Regions from separate parts of the Homo sapiens genome. Here all the other regions are linked to region 6. The links come from fine-mapping of genetic effects on gene expression. A gene starts in region 6. Each other region holds a variant in brackets. All regions are shown on one strand. Distances are between the middles of the regions. Region 1 overlaps NCAPG2 (non-SMC condensin II complex subunit G2). Region 2 overlaps ESYT2 (extended synaptotagmin 2). Region 3 overlaps ESYT2 (extended synaptotagmin 2). Region 4 has its middle 2.6 kb from the start of MIR5707. Region 5 overlaps DYNC2I1 (dynein 2 intermediate chain 1). Region 6 holds the start of NCAPG2 (non-SMC condensin II complex subunit G2). Region 7 overlaps NCAPG2 (non-SMC condensin II complex subunit G2).

The links. PIP is the estimated chance that this variant, and not a neighbour inherited with it, causes the effect.
Region 1: its variant is fine-mapped to the expression of NCAPG2 in whole blood (TOPMed, PIP above 0.99). The same link has a PIP of 0.9 or more in blood mononuclear cells.
Region 2: its variant is fine-mapped to the expression of NCAPG2 in whole blood (INTERVAL, PIP above 0.99).
Region 3: its variant is fine-mapped to the expression of NCAPG2 in whole blood (TOPMed, PIP above 0.99).
Region 4: its variant is fine-mapped to the expression of NCAPG2 in whole blood (TOPMed, PIP above 0.99).
Region 5: its variant is fine-mapped to the expression of NCAPG2 in whole blood (TOPMed, PIP above 0.99).
Region 7: its variant is fine-mapped to the expression of NCAPG2 in whole blood (TOPMed, PIP above 0.99). The same link has a PIP of 0.9 or more in blood mononuclear cells, hippocampus, lung and nasal epithelium.

What each region holds. Positions count from the first base shown.
Region 1 is chr7:158,666,640-158,671,024 of GRCh38, forward strand. The region is part of intron 13 of NCAPG2 (non-SMC condensin II complex subunit G2); the gene reads right to left. Among named protein-coding and RNA genes, the nearest start is that of NCAPG2, 36 kb to the right of the region's middle. The variant A/G (reference allele first, on the strand shown) is at 1,875.
Region 2 is chr7:158,728,904-158,733,288 of GRCh38, forward strand. ESYT2 (extended synaptotagmin 2) reads right to left here. Exons shown (of 23, transcript NM_001367773.1): 23 at 2,094-4,385. Among named protein-coding and RNA genes, the nearest start is that of NCAPG2, 26 kb to the left of the region's middle. The variant T/C (reference allele first, on the strand shown) is at 1,956.
Region 3 is chr7:158,769,218-158,773,602 of GRCh38, forward strand. ESYT2 (extended synaptotagmin 2) reads right to left here. Exons shown (of 23, transcript NM_001367773.1): 7 at 4,124-4,179. Among named protein-coding and RNA genes, the nearest start is that of ESYT2, 58 kb to the right of the region's middle. The variant A/C (reference allele first, on the strand shown) is at 2,477.
Region 4 is chr7:158,592,073-158,596,457 of GRCh38, forward strand. No RefSeq gene overlaps it. Among named protein-coding and RNA genes, the nearest start is that of MIR5707, 2.6 kb to the left of the region's middle. The variant G/T (reference allele first, on the strand shown) is at 2,117.
Region 5 is chr7:158,917,828-158,921,827 of GRCh38, forward strand. It overlaps DYNC2I1 (dynein 2 intermediate chain 1), which reads left to right. Exons shown (of 25, transcript NM_018051.5): 15 at 913-1,042. Among named protein-coding and RNA genes, the nearest start is that of DYNC2I1, 63 kb to the left of the region's middle. The variant G/C (reference allele first, on the strand shown) is at 1,721.
Region 6 is chr7:158,702,247-158,706,631 of GRCh38, forward strand. NCAPG2 (non-SMC condensin II complex subunit G2) reads right to left here and starts at 2,558. Exons shown (of 28, transcript NM_017760.7): 1 at 2,478-2,558. RefSeq lists an enhancer at 1,319-1,897 and silencers at 2,475-2,574, 2,725-2,814, 2,935-3,214.
Region 7 is chr7:158,676,728-158,681,112 of GRCh38, forward strand. NCAPG2 (non-SMC condensin II complex subunit G2) reads right to left here. Exons shown (of 28, transcript NM_017760.7): 10 at 3,994-4,089; 11 at 3,233-3,358. Among named protein-coding and RNA genes, the nearest start is that of NCAPG2, 26 kb to the right of the region's middle. The variant T/C (reference allele first, on the strand shown) is at 2,433.

The DNA of each region.
Region 1 (4,385 bases), 36 kb before region 6:
TTATTGGCTGGGCACAGTGGCTCCCGCCTGTAGTCCCAGCAACTCAGGAGACCAAGGCAGGAGGATCGCTTGAGGCCAGGATTTTGACGCCACCCTGGGCAACACAGGGAAACCCTGTCTCAAAAAAAAATAAATAAATAAAATAAAAAGAAGACAATGCATTGAAGGGAGAGGGTTGACATCTCCTGGCCCACTGGGCTCAGCCCAGCAGCCCAGGCCTACCACAGCTGACAAAGGAAACAAAGAGAAAGTATAACTCTCAATCCTTCTAGAGCTGCATGTACAAGACCCTCCACTGGGCCAGCACACCCATTACTGAGGTGTGCACGCCAGGCCCGGCAGCCTGGCTTCATGTGCCAGGTTGTTCCTGCCCATAGACAATGCCCTCCCGTCAGCTCCAACAGCTGTCCTCTGGCCAGCCAGACTGCCTCTTATACTCATGTCATTCTGTAACCTTAACTTTCAAGGGAAATTAGCTTGCATGCTCGTCACAAACCTTTCCAGACACCTCACAACCAAATGGCTGTCTGCCTTGCACTTGCAAAGATAAGGACTGAAACGCAAACGTTCTGCCTTCTTCCTCTGCTCTGGCGCCCAAACTTCCTGGTGGGCCAGAGACCCTGTGTCCCTCCGCCTCCCTCAGAGACCCTGTGTCCCTCCTCCACCCTTAGCCGCTACTGTGTCCCTCCGCTACTGTGTCCCTCCGCTCCTTAGCCACTACCGGATCCCTCCGCCCCCCCTTACCCACTACTGGGTCCCTCCGCCCTCCTTACCCACTACTGGGTCCCTCCGCCCTCCTTACCCACTACTGGGTCCCTCCGCCCGCCTTACCCACTACTGGGTCCCTCCGCCCGCCTTACCCACTACTGGGTCCCTCCGCCCTCCTTACCTACCCTGTGGCCCTCCACCCGCTTACCCACTACTGGGTCCCTCCGCCCTCCCTTACCCACTACTGGGTCCCTCCGCCCTCCTTACCTACCCTGTGGCCCTCCACCCTCTTACCCACTACTGGGTCCCTCCGCCTTCCTTACCCACTACTGGGTCCCTCCGCCCGCCTTACCCACTACTGGGTCCCTCCGCCCTCCTTACCTACCCTGTGGCCCTCCGCCCTCCCTTACCCACTACTGGGTCCCTCCGCCCTCCCTTACCCACTACTGGGTCCCTCCGCCCTCCTTACCCACTACTGGGTCCCTCCGCCCTCCCTTACCCACTACTGGGTCCCTCCGCCCTCCTTACCCACTACTGGGTCCCTCCGCCCTCCTTACCCACTACTGGGTCCCTCCGCCCTCCTTACCTACCCTCTGGCCCTCCACCCTCTTACCCACTACTGGGTCCCTCCGCCTTCCTTACCCACTACTGGGTCCCTCCGCCCTCCTTACCCACTACTGGGTCCCTCCGCCCTCCCTTACCCACTACTGGGTCCCTCCGCCCTCCTTACCCACTACTGGGTCCCTCCGCCCTCCTTACCCACTACTGGGTCCCTCCGCCCTCCTTACCTACCCTCTGGCCCTCCACCCTCTTACCCACTACTGGGTCCCTCCGCCTTCCTTACCGACCCTGGGTCCCTCCGCCCCCCCTTACCCACTACTGGGTCCCTCTGCCCTCCTTACCCACTACTGGGTCCCTCTGCCCTCCTTACCTACCTTGTGTCCCTAGGCCCTCCCTTACCCACTACTGGGTCCCTCCGCCCTCCCTTACCCACAACTGGGTCCCTCCGCCCTCCTTACCCACTACTGGGTCCCTCCGCCCTCCTTACCTATTACTGTTTTCTGTTTTGTTTTACTGAAGAGTTATTCTTTTTTTATAAAATAATGGTAGAGTGGTTTTAAGTGCTTATCTTTTAGAGATACATTCTGAAATACAAAGAAAACAAT[A/G]TGATGTCTGGAATTTATTTCAAAATAGTCCGGCAGTGTGGCCTGGATACAGTTTAGATAAAACAAGATCGGACATAGCAATAATTGTTGAAGCTGGGTGATGGGTGTATCTAATTCACTATATTAGTCTCTCTGCTTTTATATATGTTTGAAAATTCAAAATAAAAAATTAAAACAAAAAAAGTAAAAATATTCACAAAAAGTTTTCTCCAATAATTGCCTTAAAGTCTACTTTGTTTTCTGGGTTTTTTGGTCCAACTTTTAAGTTCAGGGGTACAAATGCAGGATGTGCAGGTTTGTTAAATTGGTAGACATGTGCCATGGTGGTTTGCTGCACAGATCATCCCATTACCTAGGTATCAAGCCCAGCATCCATTAGCCATTATTCCTGATGCTCTCCCTTCTCCTACCCTCCACCCTCCAACAGGCCCCAGTATGTGTTGTTCCCCACCATGTGTCCACGTGTTCTCATCATTTAGCTCTCATTTATAAGTGAGAACATGCGGTATTTTGTTTTCTGTTCCTGCGTTTGTTTGCTGAGGATAATAGCTTCCAGCTCCATCCATTCCCTGCAAAGAACATGATCTCGTTCCTTTTTATGGCGGCATAGTATTCCATAGTATATATGTACCACATTTTCTTTATCCAGTCTATCATCGAAGGGCATTTAGGTTGGTTCCATGTCTTTGCTATTGTGAATAGTGCTTCAATGAACATACGCAAACATATATCTTTATAATAAAATGATTTATATTCCTTTAGGTATATACCCAGTAATGGGATTCCTGGGTCAAATGGTATTTCTGCCTCTAGGTCTCTGAAGAATTGCCACACTGTCTTCCACAATGGTTGAACTAATTTACACTCCCACCAACAGTGTAAAAGCACAGAACTACAGTTTTAACAGGCTGTTTTAAAAAATGCCATCAAAATTGCAGCCAGTATTTTTATTGAAATTGACATGCTTGGCCGGGCGCAGTGGCTCACGCCCATAATCCCAGCACTTTGGGAGGCCAAAACAGGTGGATCCCCTGAGGTCAGGAGTTCGAGACCAGCCTGGCCAACATGGTGAAACCCCATCTCTACTAAAATTTAAAAAAAAAAAATTCGCCGGGCATGGTGGCACGTGCCTGTAGTCCCAGCTACTCAGGAGGCTGAGGCAGGAGAATCACTTGAAGCTGGGAGGCGGAGGTTGCAGTAAGGCAAGATTGTGCCATTGCACCCCAGCCTGGGTGACAGAGCGAGACTCTGTCTCAAAAAAAAAAAAAAAAAAAAAAAAAAAATTGACATGCTTACTCTACATTTTTTTAAGAGATAAGGTCTCACTATGTTGCCCAGGCTGGTCTCACACTTCTGAGCTTAAGTGATCCTCCCACCTCAGCTTCCCAAAGTGCTGGGATTACAGGTGTTAGCCACCTCACCCGGCTGTTACTCTAAAGTTTATATGAAATGCAAAAGACCTGAAGTAGCCAAAGAATTCTGGAAGAACAGCAAAGCTGGAGAATGCACACTGCAAGACTTACTGTAAGATCCACACAGAATAAACGGATCAACACAACAGGACAGAGTCCAGAAAAGGACCACACACATGGTCAATGATTTTCAACAAAAGCATCAAAGTAACTCAATTGCATATGACATTGGGTGTTAATACTACATTGGTCACTCAAAATATCCTTTGTTTTCTTCTAATATAAAAAAATTCACAGATCAAAACTCAAAACACACAACGTAATATGTACTACATTCAGTGACAAGATCCCCATCATTGGCTGGGCACGGTGGCTCACACCTGTAATCCCAGCACTTTGGGAGGCCAAGGTGGGCAGATCGCTTGAGCCCAGGAGTTTGAGACCAGCCTGGGCAACATGGGGAAACCTCATCCCTACAAAAACTACAAAAATCAGCCAGACATGGTGGCACACTCCTGTGGTCCTAGCCACTTGGGAGGCTCAGGAGGGATGATGGCTTGAGGTTGCAGTGAACCAAGATCACACCCCAGCACTCTAGCCTGGGCATCAGAGTGGGACCCTGTCTCCCCCTCACCTCATCACCCTAAGCAACTGACACTAAATTCTCGTTCTCTTCAAAGGATATTTTACCCATATCTGAGCAATATTTACTTATATATATGTCTCCATTTTATTCAGCTGGTAGCACACCAGGACCACATCTACACTATGCTTTTATACTTCCATATCTTAGAGGCCTTTCCAAGGAAGCCCGACAAAAAGTTCCTCCTTGTTCTTTTCATGGCCACACGGCACCACTTCTCTTATGAATACACAAATCTGTCTGGCTGACCCTACACTCTGGCGTTATCAGTCTGTTTCTGGATCCTGTGCCATAGCAGAACAGCACTCAAAGTAAATTTCTGAGAAGCTACTGTGTGGAGAAAGTTCACAATGGTACCAAATAATAATGAAGTCAAGAACATTATAAGCAATATTCTTGGCAAAAAGCTGAAGAGAACTAGAGCTGAAAGAGAACAATCACTTCAGTAGTTTATAA
Region 2 (4,385 bases), 27 kb after region 6:
AAAAAAAAAAAAAAACACATACACACACATGATGCTAAGAAAACTCACAGGACACCGAGATCAGCTTTCAACTGAGAAGTTACGGGGAGTGGATGTGAGCTGGGCCAGTCATGGTAAGAGCCCGCGTGGAGGTGCTGGGGAGAGGAGAGGAGAGGAGCAAGTGTGGAGGTGGGTGGGGCAGGAGCAGGTGTGGATGTGCTGGAGGGGAGGGGCAGACGTGGAGGTGCTGGGGGGAGGAGCAAGCATGGAGGTGGGGAGGTTGGAGCAAGTGTGGAGGTGGGGGGATTGGAGCAAATGTGGATGTGCTGCGGGGGAAGAGCAAGCGTGGAGGTGGGGGGGGAGGAGCAAATGTGGAGGTGCTGGGGGGAGGAGCAGGTGTGGAGATAGTGGGGGAAGAGCAAGCGTGGAGGTGTTGGGAGAAGCAAGTGTGGATGTGCAAGCGTGGAGGTGGGGGGCTTGGCGCAAGCGTGGAGGTGCTGGGGGGAGGAGCAAGGTGGAGGTTGGGACTGGAGCAAATGTGGAGGTGCTGGGGGGAGGAGCAGGTGTGGAGATAGTGGGGGAGGAGCAAGCGTGGAGGTGCTGGGGGGAGGAGCAGGTGTGGAGATAGTGGGGGAGGAGCAAGCGTGGAGGCGGGAGGGTTGGAGCAGGTGTGGAGGTGCTGTGGAAGAGGGGCAAGTGAGGATGTGCTGGCGGGGAGGAGCAAGTGTGGAGGTGGGGGCGTTGGAGCAGGTATGGAGGTGCTGGGGAGAGGGGCAAGTGTGGAGGTGCTGGGGGGGAGGAGCAAGTGTGGAGGTGCTGGGGGGGGAGGAGCAAGTGTGGAGGTGCTGGGGGGGAGGAGCAAGTGTGGAGGTGCTCGGGGGAGCAGTGTGGAGATGTTGGGGAGTTCCGAGCAGGTGTGGAGGTGCTTGCGGGGAGGAGCATGCCTGGGGGTGTTGAGTGGGAATGTGTAGGGGCCGTCTGTGGAACTGAGAGGCATTGATTGAGGTACAGTGGGTGAGGGTCCCAGAGGAAGAAGAAACACTCAGCTGCAGAAGTCAGGAAATGCTCTTGCTCTTGAACAGTGGAACACAGCTGAGTGGGAGTGATCTGTGTCTGAAAGATTCTCCTGTTGTATGGAAAATGGAGCAGGCAGGGGAGAAAGATTGAGAAATGGAGAGGGACGGTGGCTTGGACTGAGGGGACAGAGTTGAGGTGGCTACATTCTCCAGTTAGAGCTCAAGGACTTGGTGTCTGCACATGGGCTGAGGCAGTGGGAGGTGGCTGGTGCTGTCCAGGTCTCAGCTCCAGCACCAAGACGGATGATGGACAGACAGATGGACAAAGGGTGTGCCTTGAGGTGTCCATGTGACACAGAGGACGGGGATGCAGTGGGATGAACTGGTCCTGAGCTCAGACAACATCTGTATCAGTGACATACATCTGGAAACCAGGGTATTGATGGTATTAAGAACACCACATAAAAATAAAAAGTGATCAGAACCAAAACCCACATTATGCCAATTATTGAGTCTGGTTGAAGGTGAAGACAGTGTTGGAAAATGGCCAAAAATGTGCAAGGAAAATACAGAGGAAGGCGCTACAGAGGCCAAGAAGGATGGCCCACAGTCAAGGAGAAAGGAAGTGCCCGGTGTCAAAGGCCCACAGTCAAGGAGAAAGGAAGTGCCTGGTGTGAAATGCCGAGCGGCTACGAGGAAAAGCGCAAGGGCTCCACTCAAGTCGATCCAGACCACCAGTAATGAACGCAACAGGAAGGGATACTCCAGTATCACCCTCAGTGTTCCAATGTTCAGGTGTCTCGGCAGTCCCCGCTGCACTTCTCAGAGCCCTAGTTAAAAACACATTTAAAGTTTATTTTTTCTACGTATGATTATCCTTTAGAAGAGCTGTTTTTGACATGTGGAGTGTAATGTGCTGGGCAGAGGAGAGTCAAACTGAGCTGGGAACAACAGGAAGGA[T/C]GTCAGCTGCTCTGACGTAGCTGCTGGGAAAACGCGAGTGCAGACAGCAAATGAAACAGTGCACGACGTCTCCTTTCAAATTATCTGACTGCACACTGAACACCTCCCTTCAAAAGACAGAGAAAAACAAATCACGACTGAGCTAACATAAAGGTTTTATTGAATAAATACATGCACTGTCACGTGAAATTAGTTGAACAGAAAGGAGGTTCTCTACTTTTTAACCCCCATCCCCCACCGCTGTTCTCTATTTGCAGTGGGGGGTCCAGCTGGAGGTGGAATAAATGCGGCAACCACAGAAAAAACACACAGCTACACACAGGCCTGCATTTGGCTTATGTGCCTGAAAAAGAAGGGCCGACCTCTTGATAAAGAATGTCTGTAAAAGGAATTCTTACCGTGCAGAATATATTATCATGGTAAATACAGTTACAAGGCTGCTTCTATTTTATTTATTTTTTGAGACGGAGTCTCACTCTGTTGCCCAGGCTGGAGTGCAGTGGTGCGATCTTGGCTCACTGCAACCTCCGCCTCCTGGGTTCAAGCAATTCTCCTGCCTCAGCCTCCCGAGTAGCTGGGACTACAGGCGTGCGCTCCACCACCACGCCCGGCTAATTTTTGTATTTTTAGTAAAGATGGGGTTTCTCCATGTTGGCCAGGCTGGTCTTGAACTCCTGACCTCAGGTCATCCGCCCGCCTCGGCCTCCCAAAGTGCTGGGATTACAGGCGTGAGCCACCGCACCCGGCCAGCTGCTTCTATTTTAATCTGAACTTGGAAACACCTTCCTACTTTAAGGCACAGGATCAGGATAAGAACCCACATGTACGAGCTAACAGAGCTGCACTTCAAATTTACTAAGTTAATTAATTTTCCCTTCATTGGCTTGGCTCAAGGTAGAAAAGTTAAAATTCCCTTTTCTTAGATAAACTGATTATTTAAAACTGAAAATTAACGTTTTGACAACTCAAGAGTGTCTGACATCGCTGGGATCCTGGAGTGCTGAGTGTGGCCTCGATGGTGGCTTCACTCCTCCACATCTGGGAGGCACTTCAGTGCCTCAGAATCACCCCCTTTTTTTAAAAGAGAATGGAGGCAGCTACTGGAGGCCAAGCACCTCCAGGCACTCAAGGCCCTGGGGACAGCGCTACTGACTCCACTGCCTCAGGGCAGGCACGGTGCTGCTCTACCACTTCCTCTGGGCTTTGTACCTTTAATTGTGTCTACTCTGCCTAAGTGCTTAAATAAAGCATTCCATTAAGCAAAATACACATGGAGCGGATTACACACTGGACTGCAGAACTCAGATGTATGGGATGTTGGTAAAAATTACTGGCATGCTACAATTTCCATGAGTGCTGCTGCTTTATAGATTATGACAGAAGACTTTCAACAGACCTGATTTTTAAAAAACCCTCAACAAATCTAATACTAAGGGAAAGCAACTAGATTTAATGTTGTTACCTGTCTTCCATAAATACCATAGTTAAATGTTTTGTGTGCATACATGTTCGTATTTGTCTATAAAGGTATTGATACGCTTCCCAAATAATCCTATATACTAACATTGGAAATGGTTTATAAAGAGGCTTTACAGTCGCATGTCATTCAGCAGGAGGGAATATACTGGTCTTTATGATTACATGAAATATGCTGTGAAGCTACAGACTCCATTATAAGTAAACCCATGGTTCAAAGTGTAAGTTATAAATTGAAACAAAATCAAAATCTGCTAGAAGGGAGGGTGGGTAGACAGCCACCAGCCTTGTTTATAAATTCAAACAAAATAAGAATCTGCTAGAAGGGAGGGTGGGTAGACGCCACCCGCCCCGTCACAGGCACTTTGGTTTGTTTGGTCATGTGAGTTACCCACAAGTTGTATAGTTCCATGAAACAAGCTAAAAGCTCCAATTTAAATTACAAAGCTATACTTTCCTTAATATATTTACACATAGTTTTAAGATGTTCTCATGGCTATGGAAGCCATTTTCAGCATATAGCTTATAATATACACTTAATCGTCTACATATGTGCATTCTTTCTTTACAGACACACACAGCCTACGACACTGCAACAGAGCCTCACCTCACAGGAGGTCTGGGGGACTCTTAAGTACAGAAACCTGCTTTTAACAGTCTAAACAGGATAAAAATTGCATAACAATATCCCAATATTAAGGTCAGTCATGGCATAAAGTGAGGCAGCCTGGGAAGTGGCTGCTGAGAACAGCAGGGGCCGGGCTCGCAGCTGTGGCGCCCCCAACCCTGGTGGTGGCCAGTGCACATCGGCTCAAAGGTCCCACATCCTATGTGTGAGGTCACACTGGGGGTTCCTGACAATAATGAGATCGAGCTTTCAATTTTTAATGCAATATCCTGTCTACTCACTCCAATCTACCTCACAACCTTTAAAAGGACAACGTGTACCTTCCT
Region 3 (4,385 bases), 67 kb after region 6:
AAAAGAAAAACCATATGTAACACTACTCTACTTATGAACAGGTCAGTTATTCAGACAGTTAATACTTCCACAGAGATTCGGAGGGCTTCAGCCAGCAGACACTGGCTGTGTGTTCACCACGCAGAGGCAGGACCCACCCACCTTTCTCACACACAGACTCCTGGCCTCGGAGGCCACAGCAGCTCTGACGGAGCTCCCTGGCGGGGCTCCCCTCACTGCGCCTCCTCACCCCACTACACCCTGCATGTCCCCGAACTGTGGATGTGGATGCTGCTCCCCTAGGTCTCCACAGAAGCGTCTATTGAAGTGGTTACTTTCTTGGGAGTCACTATTTCCCTGTGTGTCCTTCGGAACCACGACTACTCATCACCCGTATTTTGTTTCCACCATAATCTTCACCCTTCTTAAACCTTCAACACTCAGCTTAGAGACGCTTATCAAAACATAACGGATATTTAATCATAATTTTCACCCTTCTTACGACTTCAACACTCAGCTTAGAGCCGCTTATTAAAACACAATGGATATTTAATAGGGATAGCCCAAAGTTATGGTGTAGTGAAGGAATTCAGGCATTATTCTTACTCTATAATGTCTGGGGTTTCTTTTTGTAATCAATTAATATAACATGTGGATGCTCATTTTATAAAGCTTGGGACAAGATTTCATTATGTTAAGTTCATGGTTATTTATTTATTTATTTTTTTAATTAATTTATTTTTTTTGAGACAGAGTCTCATTCTGTTGCCCAGGCTGGAGTGCTATGGCATGATCCTGGCTCACTGCAACCTCCACCTCCCGAGTAGCTGGGATTACAGGTGTGTGCCCACGCCCAACTAATTTTTGTATTTTTAGTAGAGATGGGATTTCACTATGTTGGCTAGGTTGGTCTCAAACTCCCGACCTCAGGCGATCCACCCGCCTCAGCCTCCCAAAGTGCTGGGATTACAGGTATGAGCCACCGCGTTCAGCCTCATAGTTATTTAATATTCACTTTTATAACCTAAGGGTTGCCATAGCTGTAATTTATCTGATAGAAAGACTGACAACTAGTAGCCCCAATTTTACGTACATATCTATTAAATTTTAGTACATAACATTTATGTAAACATAATTTATTATATAAAATCTACATAATTGTGCATAAATTATATATACCTATATATATAAACTTAGAAAAGATATTTTTACATTTCCCTTTTATACAACAGCCTGTTTTTTGAATGGTGTTTGTGTATTTATCTGTTAGGTAAGTATATATTTTTAATGACATAATTATACATATACGATTATATATATATATATTTTTTTTCCTGAGACGGAGTCTCACTCTGTCGCCCAGGCTGGAGTGCAGTGGCGCGATCTTTGCTCAGTGCAAGCTCCGCCTCCTGGGTTCACGCCATTCTCCTGCCTCAGCCTCCCGAGTAGCTGGGACTACAGGCGCCTGCCACCATGCCCGGCTAATTTTTTTGTATTTTCAGTAGAGACAGGGTTTCACTGTGTTAGCCAGGATGGTCTCGATCTCCTGACCTCATGATCCACCTGCCTCGGCCTCCCAAAGTGCTGGGATTACAGGCGTGAGCCACCGCCCCTGGCCTTATGATTATATTTTTGTATTACATATATAAAATCTACATATAAAACAAGAGAAGCTGGATGCAGTGGTACAAGTCTATAGTTCAGCTACTTGGGAGGCTGAGGCAGGAAGATCCCTTGAGCCCAGGGGGTTGACACCAGCCTGAGAAACAGAGTGAGATCTATCTCTGAAAACAAAATGAAAAATAAAAATAAAATAGCTAGAAATGACTACTGTATAAAAAGAGCCTACATAAAAATTATTAAATAGAATGGAGCTATACATGTATATTTATCTCTGTATTTACGTGTGTATGTGTGAATGACTTTTAAATAAAATGAATCAGGGGATCAACTTCCCCAAACTGTAGGCTTGCCGGGGCAGAACACATTCTCTGACTGCCCTTTCAGGTTGCCAGTATTAATACAACGTTGTTTACAGAGTAGATGTTCAATAATGCTGTTTTATTTCAGTCCTCCTATGATACTGAAGGGAGGCAAAATCAAATACTTTTTTCTACACTGATGTGTGTGGATGTTTGTTCCATTTGGCTAAACAGTATCTCCTCCCCCTATTTCTAGAGAAAGTTTTTGCTTTGGGGGATGCCCCCATTCACTGGAATTTCCATTTCTTTGCCTTCTGTAGGGGTGTATGTGAGATTGAAACCTGATCATCGGAGTCGCAGGAATCTGTCCAAGGGTGGCCCTTGCACACACAAGTTGGGCGGGGACCTAGCGGGAAAGGCGACTAAGTCCGCAGACTAAATGCTTGTAGCTGCAGGCACAGCAAGAGACTGCCTGAAAACAAGCCCACGAGGGACACGCCCACCCTGCATGGGTGGGGAGCTGGCGAGAGAGCCCTTATGGTGCCCAACACCGGCTCCATCTGAAGTCCCTCAGA[A/C]GACACGCCAGCTTTCCAGCTGCCGAGCAGGAAACAAGCACAGCTGTGTCCCATGCACGAGCGGCTGCAGCTAGCTCAGAGCAGGCAGTGGGCGCCCATTGTTGGAAGAGTGAATAAACTGCTTTTTGAAAATATTATTTACTGGCCGGGTGCGGTGTCTCATGCCTGTAATCCCAGCACTTTGGGAGGCCGAGGCAGGCAGATCACCTGAGCTCAGGAGTTCAAGACCAGCCTGGCCAACATGGCGAAACCCCATCTCTACTAAAAAAATACAAAAATTAGCCAGGTGTGGTGGCGCGCACCTGTAATCCCAGCTACTTGGGAGGCTGAGGCAGGGAGAATTGCTTGAACCTGGGAGGTGGTGCTTGCAGTGAGCTGAGACTGTAACACTGCACTCCAGCCTGGGCAACAGAGTGAGATTCCATCTCAAAAAAAAAAAAAGAAACTTACTTATTTACCTACTTAAGACCACTTAAGTCAGGTTTGTTGCTTGCAACCAGAATCTTAATGAACTCTTTAACCAATCTTTTAAAGTTGTGCTTTCTTTCCGCAGATCTTTTAAAGATCACAGCATTTTTCTGCATCCAGTAAACCACAGCACCTAAAAAGGACTTTCATGATGACTGTGCTTCAGATAATTAAAGTCCTAATTTTTCCCTAATAATGAAACAAAACTCTTTAGAAAGGCCATTTCAGAGGCATAAACAAATATATGAGAATAAAAAAATAGTCTGAAACCAAGTTTCATAATTTTCTAAACTATTTTAGGGAAAACAAATCACACTAGAAAATATCCACTAGAAACATATAACTTTAACCCACAGGTGATATGTTTTAACTTTCAAATAAAACGGTAAAGCCAGCAAAAGCATTTAGAGGCTGTAATTTCAAAACTTCCTATTTGGAGGTGACCAACAGGTCTGCCACCCACAGCCCCACGCACTGTTTCAGGTAATGGCACCACGGCAACTAGAATGACTCCTTGTCTCTAAGCAGGGATGCACCCTCCAGGGCCTCAGATGCTTGTTATGGAACATTTTTCTCCTGTTTTAGACACTAGATCACTACGGAATAATGAAGGGACTCCCAGTGAAATGATACGGAACTTCAAGTTCCTCACCTCTCACACTCAAGAGTTCTGGCGAAGTCCAGAAGTCCACACTGTCCCCAACCCATTTCAAAAAGGAATGGAATAAAAGTTAAAAAAAAAAAAAAGGCAGAAAGGGTGGGGTAGCCATAGGCTGGAGAGACCCTGGAAAGCATTTCCTTTTAAAGTTTCCTTTATTGTTTCTGAGAAGATTAAAAAAAAAAATTTGCAAACTGTTTTTACAAAATATTAAAAGACCTCTACTTTTCGAACATGCCAAGGCCAGGAAGACACCTTGTGGTGAACAAACGCAAATGAAGACTGCGTCCTCAGCTGGCACTCCAGAGCCCTCCCGCCCTGGCCCATCGCCTCCCAGCAGCTCCCGGCAGGCAGAACAAAGCCCCTGTACCCTCTGCTTGTTTCTCACGACAGCCTGTGGAGAAGGCACCCATTCACCTGGCAGACGCAGGTCTTAACCATTCTCACACTATTGTCAAGACATCCAAAATGCACAACACGCCCTCGAACGCTAAGCCTCCGGGACCAGACACGAGACTTACTTCAATCCAGGGACATCCAGAAGATTCGTCAGTCCTGTCCAGTTAATTTCTAAAAGCTGTTTTAAAACAAGGGCAAAATATTAAGTTCCAAACAATTTCCAATTATTGAATCAGGTGCACACAGGCTTGTTTCTTTGTAGACAAAATGGGTTAGTACACAACACAGACCCACACCCTTCATCCTTCGTAATATACCAAGGACATTTTTCTTTGGTGGTACGTGGAGACCTGCCTCTTTTTGTTTTTTGATAATGTCACAGTT
Region 4 (4,385 bases), 110 kb before region 6:
ATTCCAGTCCTACGGTGCACCAGCTCCATGATCATGAACGCGGCTCCAGCAACGTGATCGTGAACATTGCACCAGCTCTGTGATCATGAACGCTGCACCAGCTCCGTGATCGTGAACGTGAACGTTGCCCACTGGTGACAAAGGTGAAACTGTTGGCCAATCCAATGGTTTTGTGTCAGTCAGTGCTCTGGGTTACATCAGAGCTGACCAGTCCTTAACGAGGACCAGAAAGTGTTTCAAATGGGGTGGCTGGGCCTCTGATTCTAAGAAACAATCTTGAGAGGGCTGGCATGAGAACCCTGGGGTGCAGTGGGGCGCAGCAGGCTTTGTTTGAATCCCAAAGGCCCACATCACGTGGACAGGACTGACCGGCTCCTGCGTGGCATTCTCCTCTTCAGGTTGAAGGCTGGGGCTCTGATCTTCCCATTTAACATTCTCTGTGGGAGATGCTGAGTCTCCGCTTGATCAGGAATGGCTTCATGAGAGGGATGGACTTCAGGTGAGGTTTTAGGGCAAGTGCAGATGCAACTTCCACACACTCCATGCTCAAGAACAAAGGTGCCTGAACATGTACTAATGAATACACTCAAAGTTACTCATGCTAGACAAACATTTTGGCTCTTGCTAAATGACATAGTGGTTCTGGCCAACCATGATGAAATTTGAATGACTTATTAGAACAGTCAAAACTGCCAGATTGGCCACTTTTAATTGGCCATTTTTCACCATTTAAACACAACCCAGGTCTAGTTGAATGGCAAATGCAGTGAGTCACCTAATCCCAGTCTGTGTGATGGAAAGTGGATGTCAGCCCATGGAGACGGTAGCTCAGTCTTCTGCTTATGATGTTGACTGAGCCCAATCTACAGGGCAAGAGCAAGTCATTCCTGCCCCTGCCGCTTCAGAGAAGAGTGCCCCACAAAGCTTCCCTCTGCTTAGCGGAGAGGAGTCAGGAAGGTCCATCACTCCTTGGTGTCTTGTCCTGTTGTGGACACCTCTTCCCTGCGGGAAACGTCCTGCCTCAAAAGGGTGACACTTCTGTTCAGTACCAAGTGTCACTGACTCCAGGGTGCAATTGCAGGGTGGGGAATCGGAAGCTGCACCCCCCCAAATGGAACAGCCCAAGGGGTTCACCTTGCCCACTGCCAAATTACCAAGACAGCATAATTGCAGTAGAGAAAGAGTAATTTACGCAGAGCTTGTGTGCGGAAGACTGGAGTTTTATTATTCAAATCAGTCTCCCTGAAAACTTGAGGATCAGAGTTTTTAAGGATAATTTGGTGAGTAGAGGCTCGGGAAGTGGGGAGTGTTGATTGGTCGGGTTGGAGATGGAATCAGAGGGGGTTGAAGTGGGGTTTTCTTGCTGTCTTCTGTTCCTGGGTGGGATCGCAGAACTGGTTGAGACAAATACCAGTCTGGGAGGTGTCAGCTGGTACATCAGAATTCAGGGTCTGCAATATCTCAAGCACTGATCCCAGATTTTACAACAGTGATGTTATTCCCAGGAGCAACGTGGGGAGGTTTAGAATCTTGCAGCCTCCAGCTGCATGACTCCTAAATCATAATTCTAATCTTGTGGCTAATTTGTTAGTCCCCAGGCAGGAAGGGGGTTTGTTTTGGGAAAGGACTGTTATCATCTCTGTTTCAAAGCTAAACCATAAACTAAGTTCCTCCTAGAGTTAGTCTGGCCTACGGCCAGGAATGAACAAGGACAGCTTGGAGGTTAGAAACAAGATGGAGTCAGTTAGGTCAAATCTCTTTCGCTGTAATAATTGTCTCAGTTATAATCTTTGCAAAGGTGGTTTTAAAAATATTGCTCCTAGACCCCAAATGTCTGAAGAATTGGCCTTAGCATGTTACTGTATTATCAATATTTTGCCAGTCAGCAGACAACAAAAAGGGGAGTGGAAGTCTGGACCGTCCATCTTGGGTGGTGTTAGTGTTGGTGTCGGTAGTGGTGGTGGTGGAAGTGGAGGTGATGGTAGGAGTGATTGTTACAGTGGTGTTGATGTTGAAGGTGTCAGTGTTGGTGGTGGGATGGTGGTGATCATGGTGGCAGTGATGGGGTGGCAACAATGGTGGTTGGGGTGACGGTGGTAATCATGGTGACTATGTA[G/T]GGTATTGGTGGTGGTAGTAAAAGTGATGCTGGAGGTCGTGGTGGTGGTATTGATATTGGCAGTGTTAGTTGTGGTTATTATGGTGCTGCTGAAGGTGGTGATAGAGATGGTAATAGTGGTGATGGTGATTGTGATGGTGGTGGTATTGACATTGGCAGTATTGCTGGTGGTGATGATGGTAGAGATGATGGTGATTTCCATGGTGGGTGTGTTGATGAAGGTGGTGACTGTTGTGGTGGTGGTACTGATATTGATATTGTGTTGGTGGTGGTGGTATTGATATTGACAGTAATCCTGATGGTGGTACTGATGGTGATGGGAAAGGTGGTGGTGATTTTGACAGTGGATGTGTTGTTGAAGAAAGTGGTGATTGATACGGTGATGGTAGTGGTTACTGTGGTGGTGCTGGAGGGTGGTTGTAGAGATGATGTTAAAGATGGTGATGGCAATGGTGGTGAAGCTGGTGGTGATACAGATGGTCATGGTGGTAGTGGTGGAGCTGGTGGTGATGGAAGTGGTCGTGGTGGTTGATATGGTTTGGATCTGTGTCCCCACCCAAATCTTATGTGGAATTGAAATCCCCAGTGTTGGAAGTGGGGCCTGGTGGGAGGTAATTGAATCATGGGGGCAGATTTCCCCCTTTGGTGCTGTTCTCATGATAGAGTTCTCACAAGATCTGGTTGTTTAAAAGTGTGTAGCACCTCCTGCTTCTCTCTCTCTTCCTCCTGCTCTGGCCATGTAAGATGTGCCTGCTTCCCCTTCACCTTCCACCGTAATTGTAAATTTCCTGAGGCCTCTCCAGCCATGTTTCCTGTACAGCCTACAGAACCATCAGCCAATTAAACCTCTTTTCTTTATAAATTACTCAGTCTCAGGGGTTTATGGCAGTGCGAGAATGGACTAATACAGTGGTGGTGGTGGAGGTGGAAGTGGAGGTGTTAGTGGTGATGAAGCTAGTGGTGGTAGAGATGGTGATAATGGTGGTCATGGTGGTGGAGGTGGAGCTGGTGATGATGGAGGTGGAGGTGTTAGTGGTGGTGACGCTGGTGGTGGTGGAGGTGGTGGTAGAGGTGGTGATGGTGGTTATGGTGATGGTGGCGAAGTTGTAACAGAGGTGGAGCTGGTGGTGATGGAAGTGTCAGTGGTGGTGATGCTTCTGTCTGCACATCCCCTTTCCCATTTAGGCAAACAGCACTGCCATTTTTATCTGTGGGACTTCTGCCCTTGAACCCTTTTCCCTCAGGACAGGCCACCTGGTAAAGGCTCATGGCATATGCAGGCCAGCAAATGCTCTCTCCCTAGGATGTGAGTCATGCATGGAGTGACACAGGAGGAGATGACCAGAGCTGCCTCAGGCCTGCAGCAGCACCCGGGCCTACCTGTATTAGTTCGTTCTCACACTGCTATAAAGAAATACCCGAGACTGGGTAATCTACAAAGAAAAGAGGTTTAATTGACCAGCAGTTCCTCAGGCTATACAGGAAGCAAGGTGGCCTGTGCTTCTGGGGAGGCCTCGGGAAACTTATAATCATGGTGGGAGATGAAGGGGGAGCAGGCACGTCTTACGTGGCTGGAGCAGGAGGAAAAGAGAGACGGGGAGGTGCCACACACTTTAAAACAACCAGATCTCACAAGAACTCACTGCTGCCAAGACCACACCAAGGGGGATGGTGTTAAACCATGATAAACCACCTGCACGATCCAGTCACTTCCCACCAGGTCCCACCTCCAACAGTGGGGATTGTAATTCAACATGAGATTTGAGTGGGGACACAGATACAAACCGCGTCACTGCCAATGAGTGCCGAGGCCTGAGTCCCATGCTCAGGTCTGCATCTGCATCTTTTCCTGACTCTGGGGGCTCCCTACCTTCCAATAAAGTCTTTTGTGGGCCCAGCTGCCAGACCCTTTCAGTCACCTGCATTGAGAGACTTGGTGACCTATGTAAGTCGGCAGGCCTCAGTCTTACTGTTATTAATAAACAGTCCAGCCATTGGTCATAAGAAAAATATCTAATTCCATAAAGCACTGACTAGGTGCCAGTGATTATGACAATAGTTAGGCGCCATTCTCATTCACATTCCACACATGAGGAGACCAAGGCTGAGGTCTAAATCATCTTCCCAAGACCCCCACAGCCAGTAAGTGCTGGGTTCAGGGTTCAAATCCACTCGGTCTCACTCCAGAGTTCAAGGTCCCATTCTTGCCATCCCAATTCACCGAATTCTCCATTTGTGGATTCTATTAGCCTGAAGCCAGCACTTCTGA
Region 5 (4,000 bases), 220 kb after region 6:
ACATTTTCTTCCTTCTTCACACCCATCCTGTCAGTCCTCACTACACATTCCCTTTCTCACACGAATCCTATCAATTCTCACTCAACATTTCCTGTCTCTCACTCTCCCGTTCTGTCAGTTCACATGAAACATTCTCTGCCTTCCTCACTCCCATACGGTTGGCTTTCACTGTCTGTTTCTGCCTTCCTCACTCTCACACAGTCAGCTCTCACTCAACATTTCCTGCCTCCCGCCCTCCCATATTCTGTCACTTCTCACTCAGTATTCCCGGCCGTCCTGACCCTGAGTGTTCCCGGGTCATGTCAGTTCCCAATGAACACTTCCTGGCCTCCATTCTCACTACGCAGCTCCCTCTTCCTCGCACAAATCCTGTTGCTTCTCATTCAACACTCTCTGCCTTCCTCACTTTCCTTGTGTTAGTTCTCAGGAACATTTCCAGTTCTTTTTCCATCAATCCTGTTTTGTCTCCCAATCTTCTCTTTCTGCCCTGTCAAATCCTAAGGATGACCCTCCTGGAACAATGACAGTGTTTTACCACTCACTCTGGCTTTTTACCAAAACCCAGTGAGAGAGACTCGGTGGGTTCATGACTGCTCTTTACACTGCTTTGTTCATTTATGAATGCTGGATACCCAGCCCCCTTTCTCCCACTGTGATTTTTAGCAGTGTATGTGGTGTGAAAAACAACATTCAGGGCAAATGATGATTCTCCTGTGGAGTTTTAGTTAATCTTACTGTATTAGTTTTCAGTATTGAGCAGAAAGGACCGTATCGTTTTTCTTGTAGTTATGATAGCGTCATGGATCTAAGCAGTTATTTGCAGATATGGATAAGATGAAAAGGTAATTTTTTTTTGGAAAAGATAATCCATTGTGAAGTTTTTATTAAAGACTACTCACTTATGTCTGACAGGTGATGGCCGTTTTGCTGGAAGAGGATCGCTTGGCAGCTGAACCCAGCTGGAATCTTAGGGCTCAAGACAGGGCCCTGTATTTTAGTGACAGCTCATCTCAGCTGAACACCAGTCTACCATTCCTTCAAAGTAAGAGGCTGTTCTCAAATATGATTTTAAATCCAGTGACTAAACATTCATGTTGAAATAATACTCTGTAGTATAATATTTTATTTTAATGTGATGGGGTTTAATGTACATAAAACTGAGAAAGACTGAGTTTCTGCAGAATTCAAAAGTGAGTGGTTTTTCCCTCTTAAGTGTGCATGTTAAATTTGTGATTAAGGATTTTAGTAAGATGAATAGAAGAGGGATCCACAGTAATTTAAACATGTGAGATTGTTTGAATGAATGGGAACTGAGATTTTCTATGTGTTTGAAATCCTGTTTTCTTTTCTCTTCCAGTTATTCAGTTTCTTTTCTTGAGATAGAGTAGTAGAAATAGTTGGACGAGCATGAGAGAGTGTTCAGATCAAAGTTGTGTTAATAGTTTAGATATAGTTACAAGCAAGACGCTTAACATTTAGTGTAGATAGACTTAGATTTTTAGGTCAATCCGTGGTTATGGAACATAAAACGGGAAGCAAAGCCCAGGATCTCAAACAGAAAGTACAGTTGCATGTAACTGTTTAATCAGTTCAGACAAACTGCATTTGCAAGACCAAACTGAAATTTCTTGAGCTAGTAACCTCTTTGTCTCTGAAAAAGTGGCTGTCGGGTACCGGAGGGCAGCCATGGTCCCGGTTTTTGTGGAGAACCAGCAGAGGT[G/C]GTCCGTGTGGCCGTCTGCTTGGTAGCAGGTGCGGGTGTGCTGCAGGGTAAACGTGCTTCGGGGCACGTGTGAGACCAGAGCAGTTGGTGCCACTGTTCCAGGCATTTCTTCCGTCCTGCCTGCTATTTAGAGATTTCAGTTTATTTACATTTCTCTGTCTTTTAACGTTAACAAAAATGGCATTGTTAATTTAACAAGTCTTCACATTCTTTGAGAGGGTTTTGTCTTTTCCTGTTAGAAAAATAATAAATCTCTGTACCTGTATCATTCAACACATTGGCATCCACACTCCCACACCCAGCAGACACCAAGAAGGGAACCGAGTGTGCGCCGCCCCCAGGGAGCCGACACTGAGCAGTGACAGCAGATGCATGAGAGCGGCAGTGGTGCCATGGCCTCCGTCGGAGAACACGTGAAGTGTGTGTGTGTACTGCAGCGCTGTGGCCTCCGTCGGAGAACACGTGAAGTGTGTGTGTGTACCACAGCGTGTGGCCTCCAACGGGGAACACGTGAAGTGTGTGTGTGTATGGCAGCGCCGGGCCTCCGTCGGGGAACACGTGAAGTGTGTGTGTGTACCACAGCGTGTGGCCTCCGTCAGAGAACATGTGAAGTGTGTGTGTGTACCACAGCATGTGGCCTCCGTCGGGGAACACGTGAAGTGTGTGCGCATACTGCAGCGCCGGGCCTCCATCAGGGAACACATGAAGTGTGTGTGTGTACCACAGCGTGTGGCCTCCATCGGGGAACACGTGAAGTGTGTGTGCATACTGCAGCGCCGGGCCTCCATCAGGGAACACATGAAGTGTGTGTGTGTACCACAGCGTGTGGCCTCCGTCGGGGAACACGTGAAGTGCGTGTGTGTACCACAGTGTGTGGCCTCCATCTGGGAACACGTGAAGTATGTGTGCATACTGCAGCGCCAGGCCTCCATCAGGGAACACATGAAGTGTGTGTGTGTACTGAAGTGTGTGGCCTCTGTTGGGGAACTCGTGAAGTGTATGTGTGTACTTCAGTGCGTGGCCTCTGTCGGGGAACACGTGAAGTGCATGTGTGTACTGCAGTGTGTGGCCTCCGTTGGGGAACTCGTGAAGTGTGTGTGTGTTGCACTTCCCACATGTTCAAGGAGTGGAGGGTCTTGTTTGCTTAGTTTTGTGTTCTGGTAAAATGAATATTGAGATAGCAGAAGGAATATGAGACTGCAAGAGAGGCATGAGACGGAGTGTGTGGGTTGTCTCACCCTGCGAATCCAGAATTTGACTCACATTAGATTCTGATCTGTGATCAGATGTAGAGATACTTCAGCCTTCCTAGGGTCCACCCAGTACCCTCATCACTATTAAAACACGCGGCAGAATGACACAGCCAGCGGGTCGTCCTCATCTCTATTAAAACACGCGGCAGAATGACGCAGCCAGCAGGTCGTTCATCTTGACAAATGTTCTGTAGCGGGTGCTATGCCCTGGGCACTGTCGGGGAGCTGCAGTTCAGCAGTGAGTAGGACGACAGCAACTCTGCCCTCCTGAACTTGTGTTTCGCTGGGTCAAGTAGGCTCTGCACTGGCTAAACAGGTCAACACACAGTCTATCAGAGAGGGGTAAGTTCTAAGGAGAAAAATAAAGACAGTTCTGATAGAGGAGGCCTCACTGTGAGTGAAAACCGGACGGAGATGAGAGACGGGCCACAGGGAGATGGGAGCTTCTGGAGGAGGCGCTGCACGCACACAGGTCTGAGCGGTGGGCACACCTGTGTCTTGGGTAGAAGCGAGGAGACCACGGTGGACAGTGGGAGGTGAGGTCGGGGCAGCGATGGGTCAGGCGTTGGTTGCCATATCATAGTTCCGCTGTAACAGGAGGTACACGTTCCTAAAAATCGCTACACCGTGGAAGACTGCCAATAAAAACCACAGGGCTTAGGAGAAAACGGGGTCAGGTCACAGCACTCGAGAACCTCATCCCACTAAAAACAACTATTAAATACGGCAGCTGGAAGAAGACCTGACGCTTGCTGGTGGAAGTGGCCCCAGAAGGCTGCAGCTATGAGCGATTGTGACGAGGTGGAAGGAGGGTTCCCTGGAATTGGAGGGGACGTTGTGACCCAAGCATGGATGGTGTGGGTAGCAGGATGTGAACTGAGGGGCTGATAGGTGTTTGTGGTGTGTGTGTGGCTGGGGTTGGCCGGGTGCTGCTTTCCACATTGACTTGGCGCCTGCCAGCGGTGCGGTCCAGTTCTTTGACTGAAGTTCTCGCCAGTCATGGACTTCCTATCCTCCTGTTTCACGA
Region 6 (4,385 bases):
CCTTAGCAAGATGCTGGCTCGGCAGAGCTGAGTTGATTCAACAAAAGAACAATCTGATCCCAGCTGCAGATTCTGAAGATGCTCCCTTTCTAAAGGCCATTCCTCCATCAAAAAAATCCCACTGTTAGTGTCATCTTGTTATTCAAAGTGAGATGGAAAACAGTGGCCCCGGGGGTCACCTGGGATCTTGTTAGACTATGCATTAGGCATGCTCAACCACAGCACCCTCCTCCCACCCCTTCGGGATAATGAGAGCTCAGGGGACTTTGTATACCCTCCATCCTGCCTGTGTTTTTCCAGGAAATTCTATTTCGCATTCACAATACCTGGTGCTACTGGTGCCCTACTGAAAAAACATCAACCTAAAGATGAGGTAATAGCAAATGATGGAACACATTTGCAGTAGGAGCCCCCTCACTTTAAAAATAAATGAAAACCACCTGCACCATTATAAATAGAGCAATATGGAAAATTATTGCCAATAATTATGGGGACAGAGAGTCATCTTAAACATATAATACTAGATTTTAATGTCCAAATTGAACAAAGCAAAAATAACCTCAGTTTAATGACTCCCGAAATAAGTTAACAGTGAAGTCTGGTCATCTCATTCCTCAACTCAAATGGCTGAACTATGAACTACGGTCATGGACCACATAACATTTCAGTCAACAACAGACCACATGTATGACCGTGGTCCCATAAGATTATAATGCCATATTTTTACTGTGCTTTTTCTATGCTTAGATATGTTTAGCGATGCAAATACTTGCCATTGTATTACAGTTGCCTACAGTATTCAGTACAGTAACATTCTAGGAGCAGTAGGCTACACCATACAGCCTATGTGTGTAGGCTACACCTCTAGGTGTAGGCAAGTCCACTCTGTGATGTTCATGCAATGATGAAATTGCCTAACGACAACGTGTCTCCCTCTTTAAATCAAGCATGACTGGCACATTTTTCACTGACAAAGAAAATGGGGAGGGAAGGGAGAGTGGCCAGTAACAAGCATAATGAATAGTGGCTAGGACAAATTCATGATTTTAGAAAAATAATCCAATAAGGTGCAGCAAACACATGGAATCATACATCTTCGCCCGGCAAGTCTGTGAACACTCTCCACTTTTTCATAGTTCTGGTCACTTTTCTTGTTTGCTCTATTTCCAAGTGTACCTCTTTGGCATGTTAGTCCAACTTACAGTAATACACTTCCTCTAGACTACCAAACTTATTCCTATATTTCCCATTTTCCCTCTTATATTAGTGACTGTAATTTTTTAATGGTTAATTTTTCAATCTATCTCCCAAAGTGGCAATATTCCATGTTTCTTGTACCATATGTGCATAAGACCTCAGCCCTGCAGCCAGAATGCTACTTTCAAGGTAAGGAGTCATCTCACCATCCAGTTATCAGTCCGAAGAGCAGGTTACTCTTCGCACAGGAGGTCTGGTACTAAATCAAGATGAGCATTAAAAAGAAGAAATCCCTGTTACCTTCTCACCACCTGTGACTTCCCACTCCGTCCCCAAACTCCTTCCTCATGGACACAACAAGAGGCACCAAACCAGCAACAAGAGTTCAGGAGACTGATGTCTCTGAGGACAATGCCCACGTCCACAGCTGGGGAGATACTCTCTGAGGGCAGTGCCTACACCCAGGGCTCAGGGGGACTCTCTCTAAGGGCAGTACCGACACCCAGGACTGAGGGGACTCTCTCTGAGGGCAGTTCCCATGCCCAGGACAGAGGGGGTCGCTCTCTGAGGGCAGTGCCCATGCCCAGGACTGAGGGGACGCTCTCTGAGGGCAGTGCCCATGCTCAGGACTGAGGGGGTCGCTCTCTGAGGGTAGTGCCCATGCCCAGGACTGAGGGGACGCTCTCTGAGGGCAGTGCCCATGCCCAGGACTGAGGGGGTCGCTCTCTGAGGGCAGTGCCCATGCTCAGGACTGAGGGGGTCGCTCTCTGAGGGTAGTGCCCATGCCCAGGACTGAGGGGACGCTCTCTGAGGGCAGTGCCCATGCTCAGGACTGAGGGGGTCGCTCTCTGAGGGTAGTGCCCATGCCCAGGACTGAGGGGACACTCTCTGAGGGCAGTTCCCATGCCCAGGACAGAGGAGGTCGCTCTCTGAGGGCAGTGCCCATGCCCAGGACTGAGGGGACACTCTCTGAGGACGGTGCCCATGCTCAGGGCTGGGGGGTCGCTCTCTGAGGGCAGTGCCCGCGCCCGGGGCTGGGATTTTCCTCCGACACGGACAAGAAGGACGGGCGTCGCTGAGCTGGGTAGGGGGGATGGCCCGGGGTCGCCAGTTCCGTCCAGTTCCGTCAGAGGCAGCACTGCCCGCACGCAGGTCGGCCGCCTCCTTAGGGGAGGGGAGGCTGGGACCCCGACCAGCCGAGGAGGGGCTTCCCGCCCGATCCCTGCTACTTCCCAGCCCCTGCTCTGAACCCAATCCCGGCTCGGCACCGCAGCTCTTACCTGGGCTCGGGGACCCGCCGTTTCCCGCGCTCGGACCAGATTCAAACGCACCCGCCGGCGCCCCAGACGGGCCCCGCCCTCCCGGTCGTCATCAGGCGCCGCTCTCGCGAGAGCTGGGGCGCCGCGAGCCTCGGGCCTCGCCCACACGCCCGGCCCGCCCCGCCTCCAGATCATGCCCCGCCCACATGCCCGCCAGTCTTCTTCCTGTCTATGCCCCGCCTCTTAGGGCGCGGCCTCGAGCAGCTAAGCCCAGTGCCCTACCGGGCACTACGGAACGCGCACGCGGGGCGCCACAGCTGGGGAACCCATGCCCGGTCCGCGCGCCGACGTCCACTGCGCGCTCGTGCGCGTCCTGGGGCCTCCGCGGAGGGAGTGCGCGGTCCAGGAGAGGGCGGGGCGCTGCGAGCGGGCGGTGTTGTGGGAAGGAGGAAGGAGAGGAAGAGAGAGAGGGGGAGAGAAAGGAAAGGCTTGGGGCGGGGAGAGGCCACAGGGCCGTGTCTGGATCCCCGGGAGGACCCCACCCCGACCTGGCCGGCCCCCGTGACCGCCCTCCCTGCCGAGGGGGCACCTGTCCGGGTGGTCCGCAGCCTGCACACGGTAGGTGCACCCTGGGCAGGTGCTTCCCCCGCAGGAGCCCCTCCGGCCAGGTGCGGCCCCTAACAGGTGCTTCTCCTGCAGTTGCTCCTCCAGCAGGTGAGGCCCCCGGCAGGTCAGCTGCCCATAGGGTGGAGAGGGAGAGGCCTTAGCGGGGACCCTCGGAGGCACCCGTGTGAAGGAGGAGTAGCAATGTCATTCAATTCTTTGGACTTAAATGCCAAAATCACATACTGATGTATCAATCTCTTTTAATTTGTGTCAGCGAATAACTTGATTGGGCGTTCCCAATTTTTGTTGAAAGCAAATTCTTAGAAAACGGTGCTCTTTACCACCGAGCTCTGCATCCCTTCGTGAGGACTTGGCCTTCCCTGGAGCTATATTCTTTCATGCTTGAGATGTCTAGAGTGGTATCTGTTTTCCTGGCTTAACTCAAGCCAGAGGTCTTGGCGAGATTGAAGTCGTTGCACTGTGGGAGCACAGCACCAACCAATAGGAACATCATGGGAGCCACAAGTGCACTTGTAAATTTCTAGTGACCACATTAGAAAAATGAAGATAAATAGGTGACATTAATTTTTAAATATGTTTTATTTAGCCTAGTATATCAAAAATATTTATGTTACTTGTTGGAATATCGTTTCAACAAGCAATATAAAATTATAGCAGGGAGAAGACTGGTTTACTAGGAAGCTTGCAACAGTGAAGCAAGGCAGGCTGCAGAGGGGAGGGAGAAGACCCACTCAGAGGATGCTGAGTCTGGGACCCTTGTCAACAGGTGGCCGATATCTAACATTGCCTATTTCATCCTGGGGCTCCAGCCACCTCTGACCTCCTCCTCCCTCCATACACAGATCCTTCCCTGCCATTTCTTGAATTTTGGTGCCCTCATCTTCTCACTGCTTTCTTCTTAGCAATTTCCTTCATATCCAAGGTGCAAACTGCCACCTTCAAGCAGTGACCTCTGCATCTGGATTTGCAAGACACGGTTATTTCTGAACTCCAGAATTTTCAACAGCTCACTGCCTACTCCCACGCTGGTGCTGACATGCATCCAAAACAGATATCGACTTCCCCTCCCACCCCTGAATCCTGCCCCTTTCCTTATGCTGGTCCCTCCTCCAATCAGCCATCTGTTCCTGGGGTTTCCACTTCCTGAGTAGGAATAATGTAACAAGTTACGCATGTGAGCTCTGAAGCTGTACCACCTGGGCTAACCTGGTTCTGTGCTCACTAGCTGGTGACCTTTGACAAGCCATGGACGACTGAGCCTCAGTTTCCTCATCTATCAAATGGGACCTACTTAAGTACTGA
Region 7 (4,385 bases), 26 kb before region 6:
ATTAGAAACGTTGAAAAACACAACAGAATTCTTACTACTTTAATTAGAAAAAAAGATTTCAAGTTAAAATTAAGCATTTACCCCATCTCTTCCCCAAAATTTGACCAAAATGATCAATTTCTATTAGCAATAATAGAAACAAAAAGACTGAGAAATTTCTGTAAGAGAGGGAATAAGGAATAGATTCATGGAGAAAAGAGCATAAAAGGTTGTAACCTAGACATTCCTAGGTAAGGGTGCTCTAAAGACAGGAGGCTGTGACCTCAGAGAGCTCACATCAGCCCCGAACCCAGAGCCCAGGTTACAGAGAAGAGTTTGTGGCAAGGGCTGCAAACAACCCCTGATGAGGCATACAGGCCAGCAGGAGTTCAGGGGCAAGGATGTGCTCCCCAGGATAAAGTCTTACAAATGGTTTCTAAACCACGTGTGTCATCTGCCAGGAAGAGATACTGGGCAACAGACAAAGAAGAACAAAAAAAGAGCCAGCAATAACTCTAAGCCTCCAGAAAAGCAAAAGAAGGAAGAGCAATGCCACCCAGAAGGAAAGGGCCCTTTGTACTTGGGTACCGAGGGGTCACCTGCCTGCCTGCTCTTCCTCCACAGAAACTAAGGGAAGTCCTCCTGCTGTTGCACTCTGCCCATTTAGGCAAACCTGAGACATGACTCTACACAACTAGAGAAGAACACCTGCTAACTACCTTACCAACCCAATCCTTTATCCAAACATAAGAATGGAAAAGATGACCAGTCATTTAAGAAAAAGCAAATAGGAAGAAAAAAAGATGATAAAAATAAAGCAAAAAAAAAAAAAAAAAAAAAAACAGAAAAGAACTTTAGGAATCTGAAGGCCTGTCCTTGGGATTCAGAAGTTTTTATACATTTTGTTTTCTATTAATTACTTTCAATAATAATCTTTAAAAATAATAAAAATATATTCCAGACAATCACCTTACAACCACATCCTCTCTGGATTCAGTGTCCAGACCTGTTTGCAATTACACCATCACCAGAGAAGCACTCAAAATGACAGCACATGACTTGCAATGCTGTTTCTGTCGCATCCCTTCATTTAAAAACATTCAAAGAATCCTTTTCTTTTTTGAAACAGGGTCTTGCTCTGTCACCCAGGCTGGAGTATAGTGGCACAATGTCAGCTCACTGCAGCCTTGACCTTCCAGCCTCAAGTGATCCTCCCACCTCAGCCTCCCTAGTAGCTGAGACTATAGGCATGCACCACAGTGCCCAGCTGATTTTTTTTTTAATTGGTATAGATGGGGTTTCGCCATGTTGCCCAGGATTGCTCAAGCAATCCTTCTTCCTCGGCCTCTCAAAGTGTTGGGATTACAGGCGTGAACCACTGCACCTAGACCCTTTTTTATTTTAAAAAAAAAAAAAAGGTTCTCCATATTACTCAGGTTTAAGAAATACCAATAAAGCAAAAAGCATGAGAGAACAGTTAAGGTACACAGAGGATACAGGAAATAACCACTGCTCTTACTTATTTATCAGATCACCTCCTTTGTCTCCTCATGATAGAGCCTAATTTCCATCTAAAGGTTGAGTTAAAGCCTCAAGAGGTGCAGCACCAGGGACAGGAGCTCTCAGCCAGCTTTGGTGAACAATGCCGCAGGCCAGACCCAGCTGGTACCTGCTCCTACACAGCCCACAGTGCTAAGAATGGTTCATATTTCTTAATGGTTGGAAAAAATGAACAAATTAACATTTTATGGCATGTGAAAATTACATGAGATTAAAATTTTGTTGTCCACAAAATTTTTTTCTTTTTTTAAAATAAGAGTCAGGGTCTCGCTCTATCGCCCAGGCTGGAGTGCAGTAGTATAATCATGGTTCACTGTAGCCTTGACCTCCTGGGTTCAAGCGATCCTCCCATTTGAGGCTGCAGTGAGTGATGATCACGCCACTGGACTCCAGGCTGGGAGACAGAGCACGACTCTGTCTCTAAAATAAAATAAAATAAAATAAAATTTAAAAATAAGGAATCTTTAAAAAAAAAAAAAGGAATTGTAGATAAATATACATAATGTACACAGCAAAATACTAATGACTTCATTTAGGGATGTGTGTGTGTGCTTGAAGAAGTATACAGATATTTATTACACTTTTTTTTCTTTTTATTTTTTGAGACAGGGTCTCACTCTGTCACCCAGGCTGGGGTGCAGTTGTGTGATCATGGCTCACTGTAGACTTGACCTCCTGGGCTGAAGCCTCCCAAGTAGCTGGGACCACAGGCGTGTGCCACCACACCGGGCTGTTTTTTTGTTTGTTGTTGTTGTTGTTTTTAACTTTTTGTAGAGACGAGGTCTCACTATGTTGCCCAGACTGGTCTCAAATTCCTGGCCTCAAATAGTCCTCCTACCTTGCCCTCCCACAGCGCTGGGATTACAGGCGTAAGCCACTGTGCAGGCCTATTA[T/C]ACTATTACTTTAACTTTCTGCATGTCAGGTTTTCCATAAGTTAGAAAAGAAAAAGAAAAAAGGGAGCACTTCAGAAGCACCACAGGCAACAGCATTACAACAGCACTTTGTTGTCATTGTTTCCTAAAACTTTACTACTTAGGACAGTAGATAGTATGCACTGCTTAAGTAAGCTGTGTTAGGAAATACAGACTAAGTAGATGAAAAGAATCCACAATACTCCTTGGAAATAAATGCCGCATCTTAACATCCTAGCACCTCATCTGAAAAATCACCTGCCACAGGCATTATTTGTAGGCTTGCCCTGAAATATAACCAGTGTTTGCTCATTATGCTACCCAACACCTTTAGGATAGGCAATATCGCAATCACACTTACAGAGAAAGACACAGAGAAGTTAAGTGACTTGCCCAAAGCCACATACCTATTAAGTGAGAGTGGTGGACTCTGACCCCAGAGAGCAGGGGGCTGACACCAGAGCATGTGCTTTACCCACCATATGACACCACCTCTCCATTGGGGAAACAACAGGCATATGCATAAAATGTTTAAAACCACACATAGTAATAAATAATTAAATGTCCCAAAAGTAGAAAAAGACACCACAGGTCCACGCTGTTATAGAAGGCCCCAGGGAGAAGTGGCATCTCTCTGAAGAACAGTCCAGGTTTAGAAACCATGCCATGTGGGAGCAGAGCTCTGGCGGTTACAGGGGAGGTGGGGACACACACAAGCAGTACATGCCACAGCCTGGACAAAGCTGATATCTGTAAGAAGCTTGACCACCTGAAGTACGTACATAGAGCTCTTCAAACTGTTTCTGGATTTCACTATCCATTTCAATAGCATGAAGGTTTGGATCCCTAATAGGAAATGCTTCAACAAACAACAATGCAGCATTTGATCGAACTTCAGAGTTTCTGGCCTATAATAATAAAAGAAGAGTATCTCAGAATCCCAAAGAGTTAACATACGAAGGCTTAAGTACAGTGTTCCCAAAGTAACACTTTAATTATCTTGATACAGATTTATTTTCAAATTACAGACAATTATAACGTTTAAATTGACCAAACATTGCTCAGTTCAATGTCAACAGATACTATGAAAAGATAAAGCTTCCTCACTTCAAAGCCCACTTCATGTCACTAAGAAGTGGTCACCCCACATCCTCACTAAAGATACCAGGTTGTCTGCACTGAAAGTTATTGTGTGTTTGTTAGATCTCAAGGATCTGGACAGCCCTGGACAGCCCAGGCCAGCGCGGCAAACCACCCACAGCCTCAGCTGGTTTGCTTTACGGCATGCCTCTAATCTCCTTCCCTAAACATGGTTACTTAAAAATAACTGTGTAGTTAGCACTAAACCAATCCAGATTTCCAGTTAAATGAAACCAAGAAATGCTTTTAATAAAAGAAAAAAACATTTGTTCAAAAATTTCAGAAAGCATTCAGTCTTCAGCCTTATCTTTACTATTTTATTGTAATTTGGACTTAGAGTTTGCTAAATTCAAAAGCACAAGTAGTACATTCCAAACACGGATAAACTATTTGAAATGTATACCTTTAATCCTCTCCAAAGGATGGGCTTATATAATCTATAAAGCATCTCTTCCACTCCCTGCCGAACTTTCTTTTGATGGTGAAAGTAACTCAGAACCTAAGGACCAAAAAAAGGAAAAGGAAGGCATTAACAAAAAAATAAATAAATAAAATAAAATGGCATTTGGAAAGAGCAACAGGGAGAATTGTTCTCTCCACCACAAGTAGGCTCTGGCTGGCATCCACATGTCATGACAATTCTTCAGCAGGAGTAACTTCAATGGATATAGGACAGTAGTAAATGCAGTCAATCACAAGAAAGAATCTACGGCTGAAATAAAAAGATTAATGGCCTTGGGCTATAAAATGGTTTGGGTTCTAGTTTCTGCTATTCTGCCAACAGCCACATAACCT